Homo sapiens: one gene and its partners. The protein of the gene in region 1 interacts with the protein of each later gene in a pairwise test. Each region holds a gene or a part of one and is shown in the gene's direction. Other genes may lie near its edges.

Region 1 (3,754 bases):
ACTACACTCTCTCTCTGTGGGCCTCAGTCAGGCAGCCAGGCGAGATGGTATCTCAGACGCCTTCCAGCTCCATCACTCAATGTCTCTATCAAGAAGAGAACACAGATCTGAAAACATTTTTCCCCCTAACACTGAGTTGGGGTTATTATTCACATACAAAAACACAGGCACCAACAGAGATAACTGGTCAGGAAATAAGGAGCTTTGATTCTGGTCTCATACTCTTTGACCTAGTAATTCTACTTCTGTGAATTTATCTTAAAGAAAGAATCCAGAGGACAGAGCTGTGTGCACGAAAAGGTTTGCTTTCGCAATATTTGGAGTTACTGTCAATAAAATGATGTCCAATGCAAGAATGCGAGAGACTCCCTTGGTGGCACATGAGGCCACCGCAAGTGATAATTTCAAAGACACAGAAAAACATACTTGGCAGTGTTTTTCAAATTGCAGTTCAACCTCCATTAAGGGGTCATGAAATAAACCTAAGAGGTGTCCTGCCACCAACTTGTTTTTGTTTATTTTTTTGAGATGGAGTTTCGCTCTTTCACCCATGCTGGAGTGCAGTGGCACGATCTCGGCTCACTGCAACCTCCGCCTTCCAGTTTCAAGTGTTTCTCCTGCTTCAGCCTCCCGAGTAGTTGGGTTTACAGGCGCCCACCACCACGCCCAGCTAATTTTTGTATTTTTAGTAGAGACGGGCTTTCACCACGTTGGCCAGGCTGGTCTCAAATTACTGACCTCGTGATCTGCCCAGCCTCCCAAAGTGCTGGGATTGAGAGGTAAAGCCAGCTGGACTTCCTGGGTTGAGTGGGGACTTGGAGAACTTTTCTGTCTAGCTAGACAATTGTAAACGCACCAATCAGCGTTCTGTGTCTAGCTAAAGGATTGTAAATGCGCCAATCAGCACTCTGTAAAAACCCACCAATCAGCGCTCTGTGTCTAGCTAAAGGATTATAATGCACCAATAAGCACTCTGTGTCTACCTAGGGATTGTAAATGCACCAGTCAGTGCTCTGTAAAAACGCACCAATCAGCGCTCTGTGTCTAGCTAAAGGATTGTAAATGCACCAATCTGCACTCTGTAAAAATGCACCAATCAGCACTCTGTGTCTAGCTAAAGGACTGTAAATGCACCAATCAGCACTCTGTAAAATGGACCAGTCAGTGCTCTGTAACAGGGGACAAATAAGGGAATAAAAGCTGGCCATCCCCCAGTCAACAGTGGCAACCCACTCAGGTCCCCTTCCATGATGTGGGAGCTTTGTTCTTTTGCTCTTCACAATAAATCCTGCTGCTGCTCACTCTCTGGGTCCGTGCTACCTTTAAGAGCTGTAACACTCACCGTGAAGTCAGTGAGACCAAGAACCCACCTGAAGGAACCAACTCCAGACACAGGATTACAGGCCTGAGCCACCGTGCCCGACTTTGTTTTTTTTTAATTAAATAGGCAAGAATACAAAATAACAGAGTGCATTACAGGAGGTAAAGGTACTTACTGTGAAACTTTGGTTTTGGTTTCATGGGTAACTGGGCCATGGTATAAAATACATTTTTTTATCGTAGGGTCACAGTCAAAACATTTCAAAGGCCGTGGGTCTATGGTGTACAGTATAGTACGATTACAACAATGTAAAATACTGTGTGTGAGGCCAAGCCTGGGAGGAATAAACAGAAGCAAAGAGGAACTGATAAAGTTGGTAGAATAAAGGATGCTGCTTCTCAGTTATATGTTTTCTGTGATGTTTGTAGGTTGTTCTTACAATAAAACAAACCAAAAAAAAAAAAAAAAAGAAGTCAAGACACAAAGGAGAAATAACAATAGAGGGCCATTATCAGATTCCATTGGCCGAGAAGCTCAAGGCTCCAGCACCGGCCTTGAAGGATGGACAGACTTTGAATGGGGGGCGTGGCCTAAACAGGGACGGGGTTGTTGCTGAAACACAAAACACACTGAAAGAGAACATGGGGTTAAAAAAGGCTCTCAGTGATGCAAAGCGGCTTAAAACTGGGGAAGAAAGGGGCAGGTCTACTCCCGGGCTGTACATTCTGCCTCCCTGTACCGACTTTTCCACCCTCCACCCATCTAGGCTGAGGTCTCAAGCTAGAGGTTGCCCCTCATAAACATGTCCGCACCAAGCCGGCCGCGCCCCTCAACAAGATGGCGACGGCAGCAGCCCCACCTCCCGCTGACTCGGTGGCCAATGAGGGAGAAGCACGAAGACTTGAGCATGCGCACATAGCGACTTGGTGGGCGCGTCCAGTGATGACTGGGGGATCCCGGCAAGTAACATGACTAAAAAGAAGCGGGAGAATCTGGGCGTCGCTCTAGAGGTGAGGGGAAAAGTGGGGGTTGGGCCACCTCGTTAGTTGCCTTCTCCTGGCCGCGGGATAAGGGATAGGCTGGGCTATAGATAGGAGGAGGAGCCAAGCGTAGGATGAGAGGGCGACGCGGTTTGGGGAGAGGGACGGGAGGGGTGAGAAGGCCCACGGGGTTCCCGGAGGACAGGGAGCCCGAGGAGGTGCCGGATGGGCGAACCAGACTCTCTGGAGAGGGCATCTCCAGAGAGGAAGAGACATGGAAGTGAAGGGGAGCCCCAAAGACGGCCTGGCATAGAAGTGAGGGAACTCAAAGCGGGGGACACAGAACAAAAGGGATGGGTACAGAGGTGAGGGAGACCCCAGAGAAATAGGGACCTGTAGAATCTAAGGAGAACTCCCAAAGGGCTAGGACTCAAAGATGAGGGAGCCCATTCTGGTGTATATTATTAATGGTTTAAATATCCTCTAAAAGGGGAAATTTTTCCTCCGGAGTATGGAAGCTTGTACCTTCAAAATTACTTTGGGAATATGTAAAGAGAATTCTGGAATTGGTGATGTCACTGAATGGCTTAAAAATAATTTGCTGCATATAGAAGGGAAAGAAAACATACATACTGAGCAACCGCTATGTGCTACTTTCATTGCATTGTTAATCCTCACTGCAAGCCTGTGAGGTTTGTACAGATGAGGAAATTGAGGTTCCAGGTGGAACCCAGGCTGAGATGGTGGAAGTGGTGGAGCCTGGGAATCAAGCACAGGTGGTCTTCCTGGAAATTCATCTTGCTTCCCCTGTTTTCCTTCCCTTAGGGCATCCTCCCGGAGGTTGCAGGAGAGGTACAGGGTCATAGTCTTCTTCAGGCTTACTAGTGAGTTCAGTGATTCTCAAACTTTAGCATGCATAGAGTCACAGGGCTTGTTAAAAATGGAGAGTTGAACTCTTCCCACACCCCGAGTAATTCAGTAGGACTTTGATGTGCATTCTTAACAAGGAATCTGCTTTTTTTTTTTTAAGACAGAGTCTCGCTCTGTTGTCCAGGCTGAAGTGCAGTGGCGTGATCTCGGCTCACTGTAAACTCTGCCTTCTGGGTTCAAGCGATTCTCGTGCCTCAGCCTCCCGAGTAGCTGGGATTACAGGCACGTGCCACCATGCCTGGCTAATTTTTGTATTTTTGTAGAGACGGGGTTTCACCGTGTTGGCCAGGCTGGTCTTGAACTCTTGACCTCAAGTGATCTGCCCGCCCGCCTTAGCCTCCCAAAGTGCTGGGATTACAGGCATGAGCCACCACAGCCGGCCAGAATCTGCATTTTTTTTTTTTTTACAAGCCACACACACCCCATGGTGATGTGGGTAGTTTTAGTGGCATCCCTTGAGAAATATTGGCCCACTTGGTAGGAAAAAGGTTGATGGAAATGTGAAGAGGATGGTTTATGAGTG
Region 2 (3,754 bases), on another chromosome or scaffold:
AAAGGTCTCGGATGCCAGAGCTTTAGGAAATGACAGCGACAGGGAATGTCACCATGTTTCCAACATGCAGATACAGCCCAGGGAGGTTACCAATGGCATTCCTAAGATTAGAGTTCAAGGTAGAATTAGGGATGAGACTTCAGGTCTCTGTCTCCATGTCTGCCAAGTGCTCCTTCTATTTTTTCTTGCTCAGCCTGGTGAGCACACTATAAACTCACCCCCTCAGGCCTTCCAATGAATATATTTCCTGCATGTGTGGTCATCCATTCTCTCCCAAGAATGTATTGGAAAGAAAGGGGGCTTTAAGTCCTCTCCCTGTAAGTTATCTCCCTTTTCTCCAGCATGGAAATGCAGACTTAGAGGAAATATTAAATCAGCTGTTTGTATATTCCTTGAATTTTTAACAGACAACCTTTGAATCAAGTCTTTAAAAATAACAGCAATGTGGCTTTCCTGATTGTAAAATTAAACCTGTTCACTGCAGAAGACTTGGGAAATATGAAGAGCACAAAAATCCAATCCCCCTTACCTAACCGACAAGAAGCAACACCTGCTAACCTTTGAATTTCTCTTTTATGACTATTATACTACATAATTGAGGTTAGATTCTATATAATTTTGTAGCCTATATTTTTCCATTGGTATTAATGAAAGACTTTAATAACACCTTCCTGTGTTATTCAAAAGTTTTCAGAAACATAATCTTAATGGCTTCATACTATTCTATTATGTGAATATGCTATTATTATTTACGTAGTCATTTCTCTACTGTTGTGTATTTAGGTGATTTCTAGATTTTTGCTATTATAATTAATAATCTAAGGAATATTTATATATGATAATTTTGTTTTGCCTTCTTGATTATTTTCTTAAGATAGATCCCAATAAGTAGAATTACTACATCAAATAAAATGAATTTTTAAAAAGCTATATCTTCTCATTTTAAAGGATTTTTAAAGGAATTGTTGAGTCAAACTATCTTGGTAAACTTTGTCAAATTTCCTATTAGAATCAAGATATATGCGGAGAAAAACTTCAGTTGCAGATTGCAGTACTAATTTAAATGTTTCCTGTAGTCTTTCTACAGGAAAGGTGGGGTGGGGTCAGGGAAGGAAAAAAAGGGATGGGGGGAAAGGAAGGGAAGGTAGGAGAAGGAGGGAAGAGGGAAGAAAAGTGGGAGGTGGGAAGGGGATAGGAGAGGAGGGGAGGGAAGAAATATCTCCATTAGAAAGAGTTTTATTTTTTGAAGGCAGCAGTTACCTAGAATTTAAAAATGTTTCAGAGACAAATGTAGCTAAATAAGATCAGGTTTACCTCTATCTAAACTCCAACAAATACCAGGGATTTTAGCTATTGAAACTCTATAATTTCTCTGACTTAGAATTTAAAAATTCTTTACAACTATAAAACTAAAAGGTATGTATGATGTTTCATGAAATTTGAAGATGGGGGACACAGAGAGGTGATGACTCCCCCCTCAACAGCCCCGTTCCCCTAACCCCCATTTTCAGGAGTTGGTGACAATTACTGGTTCTATTATGATGCTCTGGCAAGTACTGTGGAGCAGAACCTAAGAAGGGAGTAGAGGAAGGGAGGCAATCTCCAAGCCCTGCAGGGAGCTGGGGAATGGGCAACAGATAACCTGATTTGAAACCATGCACATAGCAACAGGAGCAACAGCGAGGTCCAGACAAGCACTGGCCTGGTATCACTGTTTCTCTACCTGGTAGGGGCAAGCATAATTTCAGCAAAATGAAAGGTAGCAGTTGCTCACTCAGACTCCAAATAAAATGGTCTCTCTGAGACCAAAAAATATAGTTGCCCAGAGAGAGTAATGGTTGAAGGCAAAAGAGGAATTGAGCTCTCTGAGAGAGCTGATAATGTAAAAGAGGAACCTAGAACAAAAACATGAATAAATCACAAAAACTTTGTCCACTGAACTCGTGTCTACACACTCTGTCCCAGCCATACTCAGCTACCAATTTAAATATCCTGCTTTCCAGGTCTCTATTAGACCTGCACTCTATCCTTGAACTTTACCTTGTTGGTTGAACTGCAATCTCATTGTTTATCTCAGAGCAGTCTTCCCTCACCCCACCTGGAGGGGGAATTAAATTCCAGGATCCTTTGCACTAATTCGGATGGCCCTGGAAACCCATTACCATGCACTGCTGTGATGCTGTGAATGGCCATTCACTAGAAGCTCATTGGCCACAACTGGCCCTGTCTTTTCCAATGTCAGCATTGATGTGGATCAAAATGGAGTTTGTTAATTCTCAGATGGGTCATTTAGATTTCAGGGCCTTTCTTCAAGAGGTCCAATGCCCACCTCCTCTCTGGAGCTGCTCCGTTACACTTGCCACACTCTCTCCCTACTCCTGGGAGCCTGCAGTGTCCTGAATGGTCAAGGGTGTTACTTTTTTAAAAAACTGGAAGAAATCATAGTTTGAATTGGAGGCAAATAAAGAATAATTCTCAAAATAAAAGCACATAGCACAAGCACAAGACACTGTTACTATTATTGTTGCTGAATTAGAGTGAGGATCATGAGACAGAAACACCATCAAACTTAGATAAAGATATTCAGTCTATCAAGTGTTGATGCCATCAAGGTAAGGTGAGGTTTCCTAACTCACAGCCTTGTTTATTCCCTCAAAGGGCTATATATGAAGGCAAATAAGACTGATTTAGAGGTAACTAAAATATAAGGTATTAAGTAAAATGTTTCATATGGGTTGTACAGATATATTCCATAGGAGACAAGAGGAGGGACATCCTGCCCAGCAGTGATGAATGATCAAGGAAGACCTCAAGATAGGGCAACTGAGTTAGGCCTTGAAGATTAGATAAGATTTTTAGAGAAGTTGATTAAAAAAAAAAGAAATGACCTTTCAGGTAGAAGAAGCTGTATGACAGAAGCATGGAAGTCAAATGTTGCAAAGTGCCTCAGGTCAATGACAGACTGATTCAACCGAAGTGAATTCACAGGTGAATCAGGGAATGAATTGAGGAGTTGCCCAGAAAAATATGAGAATACTCTATGTTGAATTTGACATGAAAATATAACGATTAGTTGGAATGCCCGACAAGAAACTTGAGAAGTGAGGCTAGAGAATGACAAGCCAGGGATCAAAGAGACAATATCAGCAGAGAATGGTAAGAGGAAATAAAATTAGATGGCAGTGAAGGGAATGATCTCTTTCCTCATCCATCCGTCCATCAAACCACTATTGAGCACTTACTGTGTGCCATATTCTGAGGCAGTAAGACATTGCCTTTGCCATTGTGTCTCAGTCTTTGGAGATTAACAAGGTCACGAACAGCATATAACCCAATGCAATCAATGCCATGCAGAGGGAGCAGAGTTAGAGCAAAGAACTCCCTTGGGAATATGGGAAAGACTTCCTGGTAAAAGGAGAAGAAGAAGGAGAGGGAGGGCAGTAGGGGAGAGAGGATGGAGGGGAGAGAAAAGAGAAGGAGGAGACAGAATGAAAGAGAATGAAGAGAAAGAAGAGGAGGAAACGACAAAGAGGAAGAGAGGCAGCAAGGCACAGGGAAATGAATGTGGAGTTTTGTGTTTTAATTAACTTCAAGAACACTGGATTGGGAATACTCATAATAATTTATTAATATCCATCATTTGGAAACTAGAAAGGAAGTTTTATGTTAATAAAATTGATAATGATATCTTTTATTTATGTTCCCTCCAGTCCATTGTCTCATTTAATCTTCATCATGCCAATGAGGATTCTGT
Region 3 (3,754 bases), on another chromosome or scaffold:
CTTTCTAAGGATAATGGCTTCTACTTCATCCATGTTCCTGCAAAAGACATGATCTCATTCCTTTTTATGGCTGCATAGTATTCCACAGTGTGTATGTACCACATTTTCTTCATCCAGTCTACAAATGATGGACATTTAGGTTGATTCTATGTCTTTGCTATTGTGAATAGTGCTGCAATGAACATTCACGTGCATGTGTTTTATGGTAGAATGATTTATATTAAGATCTTATTCTTAACCCAATCGATAGTTATGGCAGAATACAGCATCATTTTATGTGTTTGTTTATGGTTCATCTCATGCCATCTCCCTCATCAGTTATAAAAGCATATAAGCATTTTACAACTATTTTGTGTAGGAGGGTACTATGAATTAGGAAGTTATCTTGCCCAACATTCAGAAGTCCAATGTAAGCATTCTGTGTGTACTTTAGTGATACATATTTTTCAGCTGTAATGATTGAGGTGGTTGTTTTGTGACCCTTATATATATACAAACTTGAAGTCCTTTTTGTTAGAAGGCAGAGTATAAGTTAAAAGCTGATACCACCTGTTCACAGGTTGAGAATTCCGTACATTATCAAAGTCAACTCTCGCAATGTTAATATAAAATTAAAATTATTCCCATTTTTACAGAAGTGAAAACTGAGGTTCCCACTACAAGGTCATGCAACTAGTAAGTGATGAAATCTGGATTTGAATTGGAATCTTCCATAGTGCTTAAACTCTGAAAACTGAGGTTCCCATTACTAGGTCATGCAACTAGTAAATGATGAAATCTGGATTTGAATTTGGATCTTCCATAGTGCTTAAACTCTACCATGCTATGTTGGTACTCAGAAAGACGTCTTCTATATAGTACTATATAATGTGGTGATTTGAAAAATATTGGACCTTAGAGTAGAATGTTTTTAGTAAAATCTGAAATGATTTATAAGCCATATGAGTTTGGGTAAGTTTCTCGGTCTCTCTATACCTCAATTTTTTTCATCTGTGAAACGGGAATAATAATAATATTATAACAGGATTAAGTATATTAATACATTCACAGCATCCAGACAGTGCTTGGCATATAGTAATAAGTACTAAATAAATGACACCTACTATTATTACTGGAATGTGACTAAAGCCATTATTCTTATAAAGAGACCACTGCTCAGAGAAACCATATGTCTGGTTGCCCTTGACTGACTTGAAGAAAGGCAGGGACTATATATCAGTGCATGCAAAATGAGAAAGAAATTGCTCTTTACCATTCCAAAGTTAAGTGAAGCACCAAGGCCTACTACAATGACCCGATGATGTCTACTACTCCAAGGCAAGACAGAATTGAATATTGTACAAACTCTGTTACTCTGCCCTGGTGTCCCATTTGTGGAGAGTCATTGTAATGTATGGACAGAATTGAACCCTTCTGTAACACTCAAAATTTTAGTAGCTAGTGGAAAAAGGGAAAGCATGAAGGCTTTGGATTTCTTTTCTATCACAGCCATAAACAACCCCAATGGCCTCCCACGAAGTTGATAATGCAGAGCTGGGGTCAGCCTCTGCCCATGGTACCCCAGGCAGTGAGGCGGGACCAGAAGAGCTGAATACTTCTGTCTACCAGCCCATAGATGGATCACCAGATTATCAGAAAGCAAAATTACAAGTTCTTGGGGTAAGTCAGCCTTAGTTTAAACACTGATTTAAGAGGGAAGAAAATAAATACAGTTGACCTGTGAATAACGTGCGTTTGAACTGTGAGGATTCCCTTACATGTGGATTTCTTCCACCTCTGTTTGCCATCCCGAGACAGCAAGAACAACCCCTGCTCTCCCTCTTCTTCCTCAGTCTATTCAACGTGAAGAGGATGAGGATGAAGACCTTTATGATAATCTACTTCCACTTAATGAATAGTAAATACATTTTCTCTTTCTTATGATTTCCTTAACGTTTTTAGTTTCTCTAGCTTATTGTATATAATATGTCACATACAAAATATGTGATAATCGACTGTTTATATTAATAGTAAGACTTCTGGTCAACAGTAGGCTATTAGTAGTTAAGTTTTTGGGAAGTCATAAGTTTTACGTGGATTTACCACCATGAAAGGGTGGGCATTCCAAACCCCAATGTTGTTCAAGAGCCAACTGTATCATGTAGAAAACCTTGCTTATGCTGAGAAGGAGGAAATTCTGAGTTATTTATCACTGACTTAATAATGATTGGAGAAAAGACAGGGACTTCTTATAGATCTGGGGAGCAGAAATGCAAAGGCATTTTCTCATGGTAGAAAACATCAAACCTTGGAGAACAGATTCCAAGACCCTTCATTTTTTGTTTTGTGCCTTTTGACCAGCCATTTGAGGAGGCTGAGCTCTATGAAGCTTATATTCTATATTTTAAATTTAAAAATTGGGTTGAGAGAAGGGTTAAAAATTGGGTTGAGAGAAAGGCTGAGTAGGATATGGCTTATCCTCTGTCTGCCTTCATCATATTATGATGCAAAAGCATGCTGGGAAGAGACTTTGACTCCATCTACCTTACCAATCATGTCTGTTTTACTGTCCTGCCACTTTCTGAGAGGAGTTCGTGAGAATGAACAGAAATGTGGGGGAGAGGTGAAGACAAAATGCTGCCACTGGAATTGGTGTGGATAGCGTGGAATAAAAAACTCTTTCAGATAAGCTCTCGTTCTGTTAATTTAGGCTTGACACTTTAACCATTTCAAGCACCGACATCTCCTTTCTGAGGAAAATTAAAATGGCCTGTTTTCAGTGTCCACTTTAGTATATGACTGTTACGCCTTTTTCCCCTTTCTTCTTTCAGGCCATCCAGATCCTGAATGCAGCAATGATTCTGGCTTTGGGTGTCTTTCTGGGTTCCTTGCAATACCCATACCACTTCCAAAAGCACTTCTTTTTCTTCACCTTCTACACAGGCTACCCGATTTGGGGTGCTGTGTTTGTGAGTATTCGTACTCCCCTGGCTATATGTTATTTCTTAGATACCACTGCTGGAGATGTGTTTGATGACAAAAATATTGTTTGTAGGTTATTGGAAGGTTGCATGCTGTGGTTTTGATTTGCAATTCTTGATATAAACAATTAGAGACGATAAACTCTTTTTTATTTTTTAATTTAATTAATTACTTAATTAATTTATTTTTTGAGACAAAGTCTCGATCTGCCATCCAGGCTGGAGTGCAGTGGCATGATCTCTGCCCACTGAAACCCTCTGCCTCCCCAGTTCAAGTGATTCTCTTGCCTCAGTCTCCTGAGTGGCTGGGATTACAGGCATGCACCACCATGCCCACCTAATTTTTGTTTTTGTATTTTTAGTAGAGACAGGGATTCACCATGTTTTCCAGGATGGTCTCGAACTCCTGACCACAAGTGGTCCTCCCAGCTTGGCCTCCCAAAATGCTGGAATTGCCAGGCATGAGCCCTGATGCCAGGCCAAAAATCTCTTTCTGATTAAGAGAAACCACATTTGCCAAGTACAAATGAAGTCCTAAAAATTATCTTATATATAACTATATGTTACATTTATAGATACTTAAAAAATTGAATGAAAAATGGGTATTGATGAATTGCCTTGTGGTACAGCAGAGAGTCCTGGCTTGAGAGTTAAGAAATTTGTCTGCTGATTACTGTCTGAAAGTCAGAAGAATCATTTCCATTATCTGGGTCAACATTCAATCAGAAGAAATAGGGGTGATTTTAAAATGTATTCATTCAGTTTTGATTATTTATTACTTCCCTGATGGTTCA

Evidence for each region.
Region 2: the proteins of CCDC167 (region 1) and TACR1 interact in binary tests that used the Homo sapiens proteins (3 or more experiments, as listed by UniProt).
Region 3: the proteins of CCDC167 (region 1) and MS4A3 interact in binary tests that used the Homo sapiens proteins (3 or more experiments, as listed by UniProt).

Annotation. Positions count from the first base shown.
Region 1 is NC_000006.12:37,498,399-37,502,152, reverse strand, and holds the start of CCDC167 (coiled-coil domain-containing protein 167), read left to right. Parts: upstream 1-2,259; 5' UTR 2,260-2,289; coding exon 2,290-2,331; intron 2,332-3,754.
Region 2 is NC_000002.12:75,192,780-75,196,533, reverse strand, and holds part of TACR1 (substance-P receptor), read left to right. Parts: intron 1-3,754. UniProt on the Homo sapiens protein: This is a receptor for the tachykinin neuropeptide substance P. It is probably associated with G proteins that activate a phosphatidylinositol-calcium second messenger system.
Region 3 is NC_000011.10:60,059,658-60,063,411, forward strand, and holds part of MS4A3 (membrane-spanning 4-domains subfamily A member 3), read left to right. Parts: intron 1-1,488; 5' UTR 1,489-1,503; coding exon 1,504-1,659; intron 1,660-1,865; exon of another isoform or gene 1,866-1,897; intron 1,898-2,810; coding exon 2,811-2,948; intron 2,949-3,754. UniProt on the Homo sapiens protein: Hematopoietic modulator for the G1-S cell cycle transition. Modulates the level of phosphorylation of cyclin-dependent kinase 2 (CDK2) through its direct binding to cyclin-dependent kinase inhibitor 3 (CDKN3/KAP).